2 linked regions of the Homo sapiens genome follow. The protein of the gene in region 2 purifies or fractionates together with the protein of the main gene of each other region. This does not show direct contact. Each region holds a gene or a part of one and is shown on either strand. Other genes may lie near its edges.

Region 1 (7,632 bases), on a different chromosome or scaffold from region 2:
TCTCTACTAAAAATACAAAAATTTGCCAGGCACCGTGGCGCGTGCCTGTAATCCCAGCTACTCGGGAGGTTGAGGCATGAGAATCGCTTGAACCTGGGAGGGAGGGGTTGCAGTGAGCCGAGACTGTGCCACTGCACTACACTCCAGCCTGAGCGACAGAGCAAGACTCCATCTCAAAAAAAAAAAAAAAAAAAAAAAAAAAAAAAAAAACACACACACACACAAGAAGAGAAGCAGGTTTGAGAAGATGATGATTCACGACGGGACTTGCCGAGGATAAGGTCCTAATAGGACTTTTCCAAGACAGGTGAATATGTCTATGAGTCTGAAGACAGGAGGTATACTAATCTGTACTAGTTATCTACTGATGGATAACAAATTACCCCAATTTAGTGCCTTAAAAGAACACACATTTATGATATTACAGTTTTTATGGGTCAGGAATCTGGGAGCAACCTAGCTGAGTGGTTCTGGCTCAGGGCCTCTTGAGTTTGCAATCATCTCAAGGTTGGACCCGGGGAGGATCCACTTCCAACCTCACTTGTGTGGCTGCCCAAGTGTCCTCACAACATGGCAGCTGGCTTCCCTCTCTCCAGGGCTGCCTTACAAGTAATGAGGGAGGGAGTAAATGAGAGAGGGAAACAGGGAGAGAAAGAACATCAAAGATGAAACTACGGTCTTTTTTTTTTTTTGAGACGGAGTCTCGCTCTGTCACCCAGCTGGAGTACTGTGGTGAGATCTCGGCTCACTGCAAGCTCTGCCTCCCCCGTTCACGCCATTCTCCTGCCTCGGTCTCCCGAGTAGCTGGGACTACAGGTGCCCGCCACCAAGCCCGGCTAATTTCTTTTTGTATTTTTAGTAGAGACAGGGTTTCACCATGTTAGCCAGGATGATCTCGATCTCCTAACCTTGTGATCCGCCCGCCTTGGCCTCCCAAAGTGCTGGGATTACAGGCATGAACCACCTTCCCCGGGCCATGAAACTACAGTCGTTTTATAACCTAATCTCAGAAGTGATATAGCATCACTTCTGCCATATTGTTTCATAGAAGCAAGCCACTAAGTTCAGTGTATACTCAAGGGGAGGGAAACGAAGCCTCATTAGTTGAGGGGAGAGGTATCAAAGAATCCATAGATAGGACACATCTTTAAAACCACAATATCACAACCAGATTATTAACTTACCTAACGCATAAATCATCACTACCTTTTCTTCTCTACTGCCAGTTCAAAAACCTTTTATCTTTACAATTTCTCCAAAGTGAGTATAAACCCTCAGCTTGATAATGAATTCATTCCTTTACCTACTTTCCAAACTGCATCTCCCATTCCTCCCCTCTGCACATTCCTGCTCTAGCTATGTACTGCTTCCAAACACTTCCATACACTTTCACCAGCATTCATGCTGTGTCCTTGGCCTACAAGTATGGTTCTCAAACTTAAGTTCAGGTGAAAGAACATCTGATAGCCTCCATATTCTCAAGAATACTACAAAACATGGATCAACAAAGCCCAGTGTAACAATTCATTAAGCTGTGCTAAAAGGAAACCACTCTTACTAATAGATTCTAGAATACACAAAGGGAAGCAGGTGCCAATGATTTCAGAACATTTCTTCTACAACTTGATTAAACACAAGGCTATTACTAGAGATTAGCAGAACATCCTTTCATGGAAGGAACACCTTTTGAAAGCAATTGAAGGAAAGCCTATTACTCTCATTCCTCCATCTCTCAAAACTTTATATAACTAGTTGCAAAAAGTCTGAAACCAACCTGAAGGCGCCTAAAAAAGTTCCTAAATAAACTGTAGTGTTGTTGCATGGTGGAACACCACAGAGCCGTTTAAAAAGATGAGGCAGAGCTTTGTGTACTGACTTGGAACAATCTCCAAGGTATATTAAGAAGAAAAAGCAAGGTGCGGAACAATGGGTATACTAGGCTACTATATGTCTTTTTCTAAAAAGTAAAAGTTTGACCAGGTCCAGTGGTTTATGCATATTACCCCAGCACTTTGGGAGGCTGAGGTGGGAGGATCCCTTGAGGCCAGGAGTTCGAGACCAACCTGGGCAACATGGTGAGACCCCTCCCTGTCCTCATCTCTACAAAAAAATTGTAAAAGTTAGCAGGACGTGGTGACCTGAACCTTTAGTCCTACCTACTCGGGAAGCTGAAGCCGGAGGATCTGTTGAACCCAGCAGTTCCAAACTGCAGTAAGCTATAGTCATGACACTACACTCCAACCTGAGTGACAGAGCCAGACTCCGTTTCTTAAAAAAAAAAAAAAAAAAAAAAAAAAAAAAGGCTGGGCACAGTGGCTCACACATGTAATCCCAGCATTTTGGGAGGCCAAGGTGGATCACCTGAGGTCAGGAGTTCCAGACCAGCCTGGCCAACATGGACAAACCCCGTCTCTACTAAAAATACAAAATTAACGCCGGGCGCGGTGGCTCAGGCCTGTAATCCCAGCACTTTGGGAGTCCGAGGCGGGCGCATCACGAGGGCAGAGGTCAGATCGAGACCATCCTGGCTAACACGGTGAAACCTTGTCTCTACTAAAAATACAAAAAAAAAAAATTAGCCGGGCGTGGTGGCGGGCGCCTGTAGTCCCAGCTACTCGGGAGGCTGAGGCAGGAGAATGGCGTGAACCCAGGAGGCGAAGCTTGCAGTGAGCCAAGATCGCGCCACTGCACTCCAGCCTGGGCGACAGAGCAAGACTCCGTCTCAAAAAAAAAAAAAAAAAAAATTAGCCAGGCATGGTGGTGCATACCCGTAATCTCAGCTACTGGGGAGGCTGAGGCAGGAGAATAGCTTGAGCTCAGGAGGCGGAGGTTGCGGTGGGCTGAGATCTCGCCATTGCACTCCAGCCTGGGCAACAAGAGCGAAACTCTGTCTCAAAAAAAAAAAAAAAAGTAGCCGGGCATGGTGGCGTCCGCCTGTAGTTTCAGCTACTCGGGAGGCTGAGACAGGAGAACTGCTTGAACCCGAAAGGGAGAGACTGCAGTGAGACAAGATCACTGCACTCCAGCCTGGGCGTCAGGGCAAGACTCCCTCTTTAAAAAAAAATTGGCCGTGGTGGTTCACGCCTATAATCCTAGCACTTTGGGAGGCCGAGGCAGGTGGATCATGAAGTCCAGGAGTTCAAGACCAGCCTGGCCAGGATGGTGAAACCCCATCTTTACTAAAAATACAAAAATTAGCCGGGCGTTGTGGCGCGTGCCTGTAATCCTAGTTACTCGGGAGGCTGAGGCAGAGAACTGCTTGAACCCGGGAAGCGAAGGATACAGTGAGCCCAGATCGTGCCACTGCACTCCAGCCTGTGCGACAGAGCGAGACTCCATTACAAAAAAAAAAAAAAAAAAAAGGAAAAAAATTAATTAAACCCATCCAACAAGAGAAAGGAGAAGTATCTCCTAAACATGCCTAGAACATCTCTGGAAGGTTCCAGGAGACACTGGTAAGGGTACCTCTGGGGAGGCGGGTGGAGTGGGAGGAAGACATTACAAAGCAAACCTGTCCTACCCAAGGGCCGCGTGCGGCCCTGGAGGCCAGGCTTTGAATACAGCCCAACACGAATTCGTAAACTTCCTTAAAGCATTACGAGATTTTTTTTAGATTTTTTTTTTAAAGCTCGTCGGCTATCATTAGTATTAGTTTTATATATGGGCCCAGGCAATTCTTCTTCCAGTGTGGCCCACGGAAGCCAAAAGATTGGACTCCCCTGTTCTAAGGTATTCCATTTGTCAGTTATCCAGCCTCCACTCCTAACCTGTTTGTTTAGCGACAAGGTCTCACTCTACTGCCTACGCTGGAGTGCAGTGGCGCGGATCAGAACTCACCGAGCCTCGAATTCCTCAAGATCCTCCATCCTCCGCCTCCCAAGTAGCCGGGACTACAGGCGCGCACCACCACGCCGGCTAATGTTTATAATTTTTGGAGAGACGGAGTCTCGTATATGCACGGACTGGTCTCCAACTCCTGGAATCCCTCCGCCTCGGCCTCCCAGAGCGCTGGGATTCCAGACGCCAGCCACGCGCACGACCAGCCACGCTTATTTGTACAGGATCTTACCTCCCGCCTCTCTGCGAGACCAGAAGCTCCTAAGAGACTGGCCCAGACTCATCTTTCGGTCCCTCATGCTGCTTAACGTGGCAGGTCGGGTGGCTCCGGGTGGCTCCCGTGCCTTATATTTCAGGGACTCCTCACCAGCCTGGGGTTGGCGTCGCCTAAAGTCAACGGGCAGGTGGGCAGTGGAGCCAGGATTCCGCGCTCTGCCCATGCCACGCGCGGCCTTCCCGGAGGCGGGGACCGTGGAGTGTGGAGGACCCCACTGGGCCTCCTGACGGGACTCTTCTCTCGCCTCAAGGCGCTTTCTTGATTTCTATCTAGTAAGAGTGAGAGGACACCCAAGCTACTCCCCACAGCTCATGGAAAGCTGGAGAAAAGCGGAAGAGCAGGTGCCTCCTCAAAGAAGGGATTCTGACAGCAGCCACTGCCCCGGAGAGCGAAACCCCACGCTCTCCCGGAAATGACGCACAGAGGCTCGGTTCCCGCCCCCTCGCTTCCGGGGCCGGGCTTGCTCGCGCGTGCGCACCAGAAGCCAGCAGTGGGGTTGCACACGCGCCTCTTCACGAGGTGGAAACAAGATGGAGGATTCGGCCTCGGCCTCGCTGTCTTCTGCAGCCGCTACTGGAACCTCCACCTCGACTCCAGCGGCCCCGACAGCACGGAAGCAGCTGGATAAAGAACAGGTGAGTGGTTCCTGGGGAGGGTGGCTTGGAAGCAGTGTGGCGGTTACCTCGTGAGGCGCAGGGTGCCGGAACCCGAGTGCGTGCTCGGCGGACTTCCCCGGGGCTGTGGGACGGTCGCTGGCGGGCCGTGTGCCTCAGCTGTCTCTCCCCTTTACACACGTGGGTGGGCGCCTGCTTTCCCTGGTCCTGCGGCCTGGCGCTAGTGAATTGGGTTGCAAGTGTGCTGTGGAGCTAGATGAGATAGACCTGGCGACCTGGCTTAGCTTCCCTATCATTAGCGCTTGACCGAATCGCTTAGTTTTGCAGGTCTGTTACCCGTTATTTAAAGTGGGCCCTTCGGCTCCCCGTTATCCAGGATCGGGAGAGGTAATGAGTGTAAAGCGCTTTGGCCTGGTACATGGTAAGAAGGTGCTCAGTAGGCCGGGCGCGGTGGCTCACGCCTGTAATCCCAGCACTTTTGGAGGCCGAGGCGGGTGGATCACCTGAGGTCAGGAGTTCGATACCAGCCTGGCCAACATGGTGAAACCCCGTCTCTACTAAAAATACAAAAATTAGGTGGGCGTGGTGGCGGGCGCCTGTAATCTCAGCTACTCGGGAAGCTGAGGCAGGAGAATTGCCAGGAGTTCTCAGTAAATGCTAAATGCATTTTGCTTTGCGTTTTTCCTGGGATTACTGCTTTCATCATTGAGGGCAGGAGGGGCACGTTTCCCTCTAGCCCAATCTCTTTAAGTAGAAGAGGTGCCCTTCTGCACACAGTACTGGAAGTGGGTACTTAGGCATGTTTGATGGATTCTTAGATTTCTGTGAATATAAACTGCAGGATCCTAATAGATACGGTTATGGAGGTTACCCCTTGAAATAGAAGTTGGAAGGGAAAAAATAGAAGGTGTGGGAGGGGGCAAATGCTAAATTAGATTGAGAACATTTCATTTATTTGTGTAAGTTATTGTGAAAACATTTCACTTATTTGTCTAATTTCCACTTTGCAGGTTAGAAAGGCAGTGGACGCTCTCTTGACGCATTGCAAGTCCAGGAAAAACAATTATGGGTTGCTTTTGAATGAGAATGAAAGTTTATTTTTAATGGTGGTATTATGGAAAATTCCAAGTAAAGAACTGAGGGTCAGATTGTAAGTTGTGATTTTCTACCTTTGCTGTTTTTATCTGTGTGTTTATTCTTTGTAACTCGAACAATTGCATCATGGTTACTAATGGAAACTTTGCAAACTTATAATAAAAATCTGACGTGAAGTAAAACAACTATGTCCAAAAGAACCATAGAGGCTTGATGTGGTGGCTCACACCTGTAATCCCAGCACTTTGGGAGGCCGAGGTGGACGGATCACCTGAGGTCGGGAGTTCAAAACCAGCCTGGCCAACATGGTAAAACCCTGTCTCTCCAAAAATACAAAAATTAGCCAGGCATGATGGCGGGTGCCTGTAATCTCAGCTACTCGGGAGGCTGAGGCAGGAGAGTGGCAGTGAGCGGAGATGTCTCCATTGCACTCCAGCCTAGGCGACAGAGCAAGACTCTGTCTCAAAAAAATAAAAAATAATAAAAAATAAAAGAACCGTAGAAATTCAGATGTGCTAAAATTTTCTAGAAATTTCACCAGTTTTCTTAGAGCTTGGTGGACAGCTAACGTAATCAGGTCTGTTGAATCGAAAACGTGGTGTTCGAAAGAATAAAGGTGGAATAAGTTAAACAGCTTTATTTTATTTTATTTTTTTATTAGAAACTGTTATCTTTCCATGTCAAGCAAAAATTCTTTGGGGCTACAATTTATTCCTTTGTACAGAGACTATTAAAAACTGCAGTGAATTTCTGTCTATGGAAAAGAAATCCATGGTGATTATACAGAATGCTTCTTCAGAACATAGGTTGTAAGCATAAGAAATGAGTTAAACCCTTGTATTTTATTTTCTGTAAGATGTGGCATAATTGTGTTTGCTGGTCCCTCTTGGTTTAGTCCATGTTTTTGGTTTCGATTCTTTTATCTCTCCTTTTTTTTTTTTTTTTAAGAGACGAGATCTTGCGCTGTTGCCCAGCTGGAGTACAATAGTGAGATCTGTGTTCACTGCAACCTCAACCTCCCTGACCTGACTCAAGTGATCCTCCCACCTCAGCCTTCCAAGTAGCTGGGACTACAGGTGCACACCACCATGCCTAGCTAATTTTGAAATCTTTGTGGAGATGAGGTTTCACTGTGTTCTCCAGGCTGGTCTCGAACTCAGGCTCAAGCAGTCCTCCCTCTCAGTCTCCCAAAGTGTTGGGATTACAGGCATGAGCCTCCATGCCTGGGCTGTTTCAATTCTTAAAAGTTATGTTATGCTGGGCATGGTGACTCATCCCTGTAATCTCAGCACTTTGGGAGGTGAGGTGGGTGGATCATTTGAGGCCTGGGAGTTTGAGATCATCCTGACCCAACATGGCGAAATCCCATGTCTCCTAAAAATACAAAAATTAGCCAGACATGATGGTGGGCGTCTGTAATCCCAGCTGTTTGGGAGGCTGAAGTGCAAGAATCATTTGAACCCAGGAGGCAGAGGTTGCAGAGACTCCAGCCTGGGCGACAGTGAGACTCCCATCTCAAAAAAAAAAAAAAAAGTTATGTTGGCTGAGTGTGGTGGCTCACACTGTAATCTCAGCAGTTTGGGAGGCTGAGGCAGGTGGATTGCTTGAGCCCACAAATTCAAGACCAGCCCAGGCTATGTGGCGAAACCCTGTCTCTACGAAAAATACAAAAATTAGCTGGGCCTACACCCAACTGGTACGTGCCTGGAGTCTCAGCTATGCTGGAGGCTATCGTGAGCTATGATCACACCACTGCACTGCAGCCTTGGGTACTGAGCAAAACCCTGTCTCAAAAAAAGGAAAAGAAGA
Region 2 (7,001 bases):
GAGGGCGGGGGCTGCAAATGGGTCAGTGGCTGGCACCCCTCCCCAGGTGCTGAACCCCGAGACCAGTGAGGATGAGAATGACCGTGTGGTGGTGACGGACGATTCTGATGAGCGGCGGCTGAAGGGTGCAGAGGTGTTGCCAGCATGGGCCGGGCGGGGGCGGTGGGGAGTGGGACGATCGGGGAGGTGTGTGACGCGCCTGCCTCTACCACACAGGACAAGAGCGAGGAAGGTGAGGACAACAGAAGCTCAGAGAGTGAAGAGGAGAGCGAGGGGGAGGAGAGCGAGGAGGAGGAGCGCGACGGGGACGTGGATCAGGGCTTCCGGGAACAGCTGATGACCGTGCTGCAGGCTGGGAAGGCGCTGGTGAGTGGGGGAGGTGGAGGGGGGGGCGGCCGGGGAGGGCTCGGGTGTCCCCATGTTGTGTGCCTGCCCGAGGCCTGGCTGACCGCTGGGCCTCTGTCCCTCAGGGTGGAGAGGACAGTGAGAACGAGGAGGAGCTGGGGGATGAGGCCATGATGGCCCTGGACCAGAGCCTCGCCAGCCTCTTTGCCGAGCAGAAGCTGCGTATCCAGGCCCGGCGAGACGAGAAGAACAAGCTGCAGAAGGAGAAGGCTCTGCGGCGCGACTTCCAGATCCGGGTGAGCCTGGGGGCGGGCCGCACCCACCCCCGCCTCCCTGTGCGCCCACCCCCGCCTCCCTGTGCGCCCACCCCCGTGTTGCTGACCTGCCCTCCTGGCTGCAGGTGCTGGACCTGGTGGAGGTGCTAGTGACCAAGCAGCCCGAGAATGCCCTGGTCCTGGAGCTGCTGGAGCCGCTGCTGAGCATCATCCGGCGCAGCCTGCGCAGCAGCAGCTCCAAACAGGAGCAGGACCTTCTGCACAAGACGGCGCGCATCTTCACGTGAGCACGGGGGTGCAGGGCGGGCAGGTGTGGCCGGCAGCCCCCAGGCGCAGGAGAGCCAGAGCTCTAGGCTTGCTGTCTGCACAGGAAGGAGAGAGCCAAGCTTCCAGCCTGGGCCCCTAGCTCGCAGGCTCACTGCTCAGCCCTAGAGGCACACGTCACTTAGTGATTCCCACAGTCCTTGCTTCATCCCCGCGTTCTCCCGACACAGTGCCAACAGTGCCCTGGAGCTGGGGTCCATCCCTGCCCTTGACAGTCTCAAGTGGGGCTGTGCCAACAGTGCCCTGGAGCTGGGGTCCATCCCTGCCCTTGACAGTCTCAAGTGGGGCTGTGCTGGGGTGGAGGGGGACAGTGGGTGCACCTGTGGCAGGGGACACCCAACCCAGTCCTCGGAGGTGTAGTGTGCATGGGAGTTTGTCAGGCTGGGAGGCCTTGGGCAGGGCAGAAAGGGAGGAAGAGCATCCTGACGGGAGCTGGTCAGACACGCAGCTGGAAGGTCAGGCAAGCAGCGAGGCCACAGACCCCCGCACCCTCGCAGGCCCTGACCCTAGCGGTGCTGGAGGCCACAGAGGCATTATCAGCAAGAGCAGTGGCGTGGGGAAGGGTCTGAGTCTGGTTTGCCTTTTCAGAAACGGCTGGCAGCGTGGAGAAGGGTTTGGGAGGGGCTGTGCTGGAGGCAGAGGGCCCAGGAGGGAGGCGGTGGCAGGCGTGGGAGAGACAGGCAGGCACCTGGTAGACCTGCCTTCAGAGCTCAGGTGCTGGGGAGGTGAAGGCCTGGGAGCTGGGGCGCTGCGTGGATAGTCAGGAGGGGTGGGGAGTGTGACTGGCAGTGCATTCTTCACAAACCCAGGCCCGCCCGGGCCACGCCTTCTCAGATAGTTCTGCCAGCGTGCGTGGACAGTGTCGTTTGTTGAGCATCCTGCCTCTTGCCCCCATTATATCCCCGGCCCTGCAGGGCCACAGAGGGTTCTAAGCACATGAACCCTTGTCTCGCTTTACAAAAGGCCTGAAGGCCACTGCCCCATGAGAGACAAGTGTAGACAGGAGGGGTGCCCCAGGCAGGCAGTTGGCCCTTGGTGCAGCCTCCACTCAGGGAGCTGTTCTGTTCTCCCCTGGAGCGCCCCTGTCACCCCAGCACTCTGAGCCCACACAGCTTCCAGGCAGCCTGCAGGCGGCCCTGGGCCCTCCTCTGTGGCCTGGGTCGCCTCTGTCGTCTTCTAGGTCTGTTTCCCCACTTATAAAGTGGGACTTGGGTTGGCTCTGCTTGGCGGAGCAGGGTGGACCGAGAATGTTCTGACCAGCTCTCGTCCTCACCACCCACAGGCACCACCTGTGCCGTGCCCGGCGCTACTGCCACGACTTGGGTGAGCGCGCAGGGGCCCTGCACGCCCAGGTGGAGCGGTTGGTGCAGCAGGCTGGCCGCCAGCCCGACTCCCCCACCGCCCTCTACCACTTCAACGCCTCTCTCTACCTGCTCCGGGTCTTGAAGGGCAACACTGCTGAGGGCTGCGTGCATGAGACACAGGAGAAGCAGAAAGCTGGCACTGACCCCAGCCACATGCCCACGGGCCCGCAGGTGAGCAGGGCCTGGCCCAGGAGCAGCCCCAGGCATTTCACAGCCAGGGAGTGGAGGCCGGGACTTCCCCAGGGCCCAACCCTCAGCCTTCTGATGAAGGTAGGCCAGGCTCTGCTCCCATCCCAGGGACCCCTCTCCTGGCCTCACCCAGCTCGCTCTCCCCTGGCCTAGGCTGCCAGCTGCTTGGACTTGAACCTGGTGACCCGGGTGTACTCGACAGCACTGAGCTCCTTCCTGACCAAGCGCAACAGCCCCCTCACAGTTCCCATGTTCCTCAGCCTCTTCTCCCGGCACCCGGTGAGTGTTGGGGCCTGCCCTGCTTCCTCATGGTCCCTGCTCAGCCCAGCCTGCACCTCACAGCCCTTGTCACTCCCCACCAGGTGCTCTGTCAGAGCCTGCTCCCCATCCTGGTCCAGCATATCACGGGCCCGGTGCGGCCCCGTCATCAGGTGAGAGACTTCCCAGCTCCCAGCCCAGGGCCTGTCTGAATTAACCCGCTTAACCCTCTTCTGACTGGATATTGTGAGGCCCCAGAGCGCTGTCCTGGTGAGCACGGGCACAGCTGTCCCTGCCCCACTGGCTTGGCTGTGGGTACATGGTCTCTGAAGGGGGTGGCCGTGCCCTGGCCCCTGCCACACAGTGAACACACAGGAGCTGAGGGGGCAGGGCCAGCCTCACTCCCGCAGCCACTGCTGCCCATCTGGCCACACACAGGATGCCCCTGGTAGTGTCTGCTCTGGTGCCAGGGCTGTTGGGGGCAGGCTGGAGGAAGATGGCACTAAGCCAATAATGGGCAGGAATTGTCCCAACCTGAGGTCCCACCTCTATCCAGCTGGGAGGCCTTGGTGTCCCCACCTGCACACAAAGGCACAGGAGCAGGTAGTCACAGAGCCCAGAGCAGCAGGCAGCCTCACACGCTGCCCACAGCAGTGCCCAGCGGGCCCCCGAGCCCTCATGCATCCCTGAGCCGTGAGCACCCAACGTGCCAAGGCTCCTGCCACCCACCTTTGCCCACCCACAGGCCTGCCTGCTGCTCCAGAAGACCCTGTCCATGCGGGAGGTGAGGTCGTGCTTTGAGGACCCCGAGTGGAAGCAGCTGATGGGCCAGGTCCTAGCAAAGGTCACCGAGGTAACAGCCGGGGGGCGCCCTTTCCCCACCCCCTCAGAATCAGTTCTCCGGGAGACCGATCTCTGGGAAAGAAGTGAGGATTGGAGCCTGAGTCCAGAGTCGGGAGAACTGGGGTTGTCCCAGGAGACGGTCCCTGCCTCTGGGCTTTACTTCCGGCTGGGAAACAGAAAGGCTTTGAGCAGCTCTCCGGAGTGCCTCAGCCTGGCCACCCTTCCCTAGAACTTGCGCGTGCTGGGGGAGGCGCAGACCAAGGCGCAGCATCAGCAGGCACTGTCCTCCCTGGAGCTGCTCAACGTTCTCTTCAGGACCTGCAAACATGAGGTGAGGCGGGGGCCCAGTCCGCGGTCGTGTTCGGGTTCCTCTTGGGGGCCTTGGGGCCTCCCGGCCAGCAGTGCCATGCCCGGGCTGGACTGCAGGGATGGGGGTCATGTGGGGAAACTTCTCAGTGCCTGGGCCAGGGCTCTGGGCTGCCATTTGGGCAGTTACCAAACCATGGATGGGTGAGTGACTTGGGAAGGGACTGTGCCACCCTGTCCTCCTCCTGCAGGGCGGGGTGAGAGGGGGTGGGGTGGCACTGCCACATCCCGTGAGAAAGCCGAGAAGGGGCTGGCAGGGCTGGAGACTGTGGAAGGGTTGGAGAAGATTCAGGGTGAGCAGCCAGGTTTCCAGGCCTGGTACAGGAGTGTGGGCAGCCATCAGGGCAGGGCTGGGAGGCAGCTGGAGGTGGCCATCTGGGTCCCCCGGTCTGGCCCAGAGGGCGGGGTTTGGGAATCTTCAGCATAGGTGCTAGTCAGCCCTTGTGGAGGGAGAGCTTGCCAAGGGGGTGCTGGCAGGCAGAGGCGGGGCCCGGGACGGGGCCTTACAAAACTGGCTGATAGTGAGGAAGCCAGGAGAGCAGGGCTCCCGGAAGCTGGCGGATTCCAACAATAACCCATTCAGGATGTGCAGGAAGGTGGCAGGGTTGGGTGGGGAAGCGCTTTGGCAGCCCCGCGGTGATGGAGTGCTGGGGAGTGGCCCTCTTGGAGGTGGGTGGGCCCGGGCCACTGCTGGAGGGGAGGACACCGAGACTCTGAGACCAGGCCTTTGGCTATGGGAAGGAGGAGAACCAACACCTGGGGCGCGTGTTTCCTCCCTCGGTAAGAGACACGGATGACTTAACAGGCAGAAGGAGAGGCTGAGGCCCAGGAAGGGGCAGGGGTCACTGGTGAGGCAGCAACAGGGCAGAGGTGGGAAGACTGGGAGCCCGCGAGAGGCCCCGCCCTCTGTGGCCCCACAGCTCTGCCTTCCCACCCTCTGCAGAAGCTGACCTTGGACCTGACGGTGCTCCTGGGTGTGCTGCAGGGGCAACAGCAGAGCCTACAGCAGGGGGCACACTCCACCGGCTCCAGCCGCCTGCACGACCTCTACTGGCAGGCCATGAAAACCCTGGGAGTCCAGTAGGTTCTGGGAGGGGGACACACACCTTGGGTAGGGGCTGGGAACACCCTCACGCTGCTGCACACACACACACGCTGCACACACGCTGCTGCACACGCACACTGCACACGCATGCTGCTGCACACACATGCACTCAAGCGCATTCTCAGATGTGGGAGCTGTAGGACCCTCACAGGACCCTCGCAGGAGCCTCGCAGGACCCTCGCAGGACCCAGGGGCCTCGCAGGACCCTCATAGGACCCTCACGGGACCCTCATAGGGGCCTCACAGAACCTAGGGGCCTCAGAGGACCCTCAGAATCCAGGTGGAGGTAGCAGTCGCGGTGGCGGTGGCTGCTGCCCTCGATGGGCACCTTCTAACCTTGCTCACTTCCCTTCAGGCGCCCCAAGTTGGAGAAGAAGGATGCCAAGGAGATCCCCAGTGCCACCCAGAGCCCCATCAGTAAGAAGCGGAAGAAAAAGGGATTCTTGCCAGAGACGAAGAAGCGCAAGAAACGCAAGTCAGAGGATGGCACGCCAGCGGAGGATGGCACACCTGCAGCCACCGGCGGGAGCCAGCCCCCCAGCATGGGCAGGAAGAAGAGGAACAGGACAAAGGCTAAGGTCCCAGCCCAGGCAAACGGGACGCCAACCACCAAGAGTCCAGCCCCTGGCGCCCCCACCCGGAGCCCCAGCACCCCTGCCAAATCCCCAAAACTGCAGAAGAAAAACCAGAAGCCGTCCCAGGTGAATGGAGCTCCCGGGTCCCCCACGGAACCTGCAGGCCAAAAGCAGCATCAGAAGGCTCTTCCCAAAAAGGGGGTCTTGGGCAAATCACCACTGTCCGCGCTGGCACGGAAAAAGGCAAGGCTGTCTTTGGTCATCAGGAGTCCCAGCCTGCTTCAGAGTGGGGCCAAGAAGAAAGCACAGGTGAGGAAGGCAGGGAAGCCCTGAGCACAGGTACGGGCCCCCCTCAGCCCCTGCCTCCATCTGCCTGAGACGCCTATTTTTTTTTTTTTTTTTTAAACCATGATTTTAATACGCAAGCTGTTTCTAAGGCGCTGCCACTGGGGAGGGTGGCTGTTGCCGCCTGCCCGGGCATCCTGCTCTGGCAAGCACAGCCTGAGCCATTCCTGCAGGGGTCCCAGGGTGCAGAGACCTCCCCACCCCCGGTTCTGGGCTGGGACCCTGGCTCCAGGGCCATGTCCAGGGCTCTGGTGTTTGCCTGGGTTGGTGCAGGTTGATGTGCTGGCTGCAGGCAGGTGTGACCATCTCTCGTGCCTGCCACCTCTTTGCCCCCAGGCTTTTTTGCTGTGAGGGAGCCACCAGGGGGTGATTTAAATAGGTTTATTTCTTCATTTACAAGAGGAATATATTTGGCTTCTCTCTTAAGACTCTGAGATTCACAATCAGCAGCTCTAAAAAATAAAGGAGCAGTTTGGCTTCCGGAAGGAAGAGGAGGCAACACTCGGACCTGGTTCTTGTACAACAAGAAAACATCGCTGGGGCCCCGCTGAGGCTGGAGTGGGGGTGGAGGCTGGTCTTTGGAGGATGCCACCCCCACCCCATCCTCTTGTCAGGCCCTCGGGGTACCCCAGAGCTTGGTGGGTGAGTATTCCACCTGCTTACACACCACTGAAGCCACAGCCAGCCAGTAACTAAGGGGCAAGAAGAGCATTGTCCAAGCTGGCTCTTGGGGGGTCCCCCATTGGCCACAAGGCCTCACCCCCCACCCCACCCCCGCACCAGAACCACCTTGATTGCAGCAGAAGTGCAGGGAGTGGGTGACGCAGGGGGCTAAGCTCCCCCAAAGCGGGTTGGGGCTGGTGTGAAGTTGGCAGCTGCATCCTGGTGTGTGCATGGATGGGAGGTGGGTGATCGAAGGCCTGGCCCCCCCCTGGGGTCACTTGGTGGAATGCCAGCAGCCAGTGTTTGGGTAGGGGCCGCCTCTCCCGGGGCCTCAGCCTCAGCTCTGGGG

Evidence for each region. The genes of interacting proteins can lie anywhere in the genome.
Region 1: the proteins of MYBBP1A (region 2) and RSL1D1 purify together in Homo sapiens (affinity purification with mass spectrometry; 2 studies listed by BioGRID and IntAct, with this or other methods). This does not show direct contact.

Annotation. Positions count from the first base shown.
Region 1 is NC_000016.10:11,848,525-11,856,156, reverse strand, and holds the start of RSL1D1 (ribosomal L1 domain-containing protein 1), read left to right. Parts: upstream 1-4,614; 5' UTR 4,615-4,644; coding exon 4,645-4,749; intron 4,750-5,738; coding exon 5,739-5,878; intron 5,879-7,632. UniProt on the Homo sapiens protein: Regulates cellular senescence through inhibition of PTEN translation. Acts as a pro-apoptotic regulator in response to DNA damage.
Region 2 is NC_000017.11:4,538,391-4,545,391, reverse strand, and holds the end of MYBBP1A (myb-binding protein 1A), read left to right. Parts: intron 1-46; coding exon 47-133; intron 134-216; coding exon 217-366; intron 367-470; coding exon 471-641; intron 642-745; coding exon 746-903; intron 904-2,226; coding exon 2,227-2,479; intron 2,480-2,650; coding exon 2,651-2,776; intron 2,777-2,859; coding exon 2,860-2,928; intron 2,929-3,500; coding exon 3,501-3,608; intron 3,609-3,827; coding exon 3,828-3,929; intron 3,930-4,907; coding exon 4,908-5,044; intron 5,045-5,424; coding exon 5,425-5,977; 3' UTR 5,978-6,416; coding exon of another isoform or gene 6,417-6,452; 3' UTR 6,453-6,488; downstream 6,489-7,001. UniProt on the Homo sapiens protein: May activate or repress transcription via interactions with sequence specific DNA-binding proteins. Repression may be mediated at least in part by histone deacetylase activity (HDAC activity).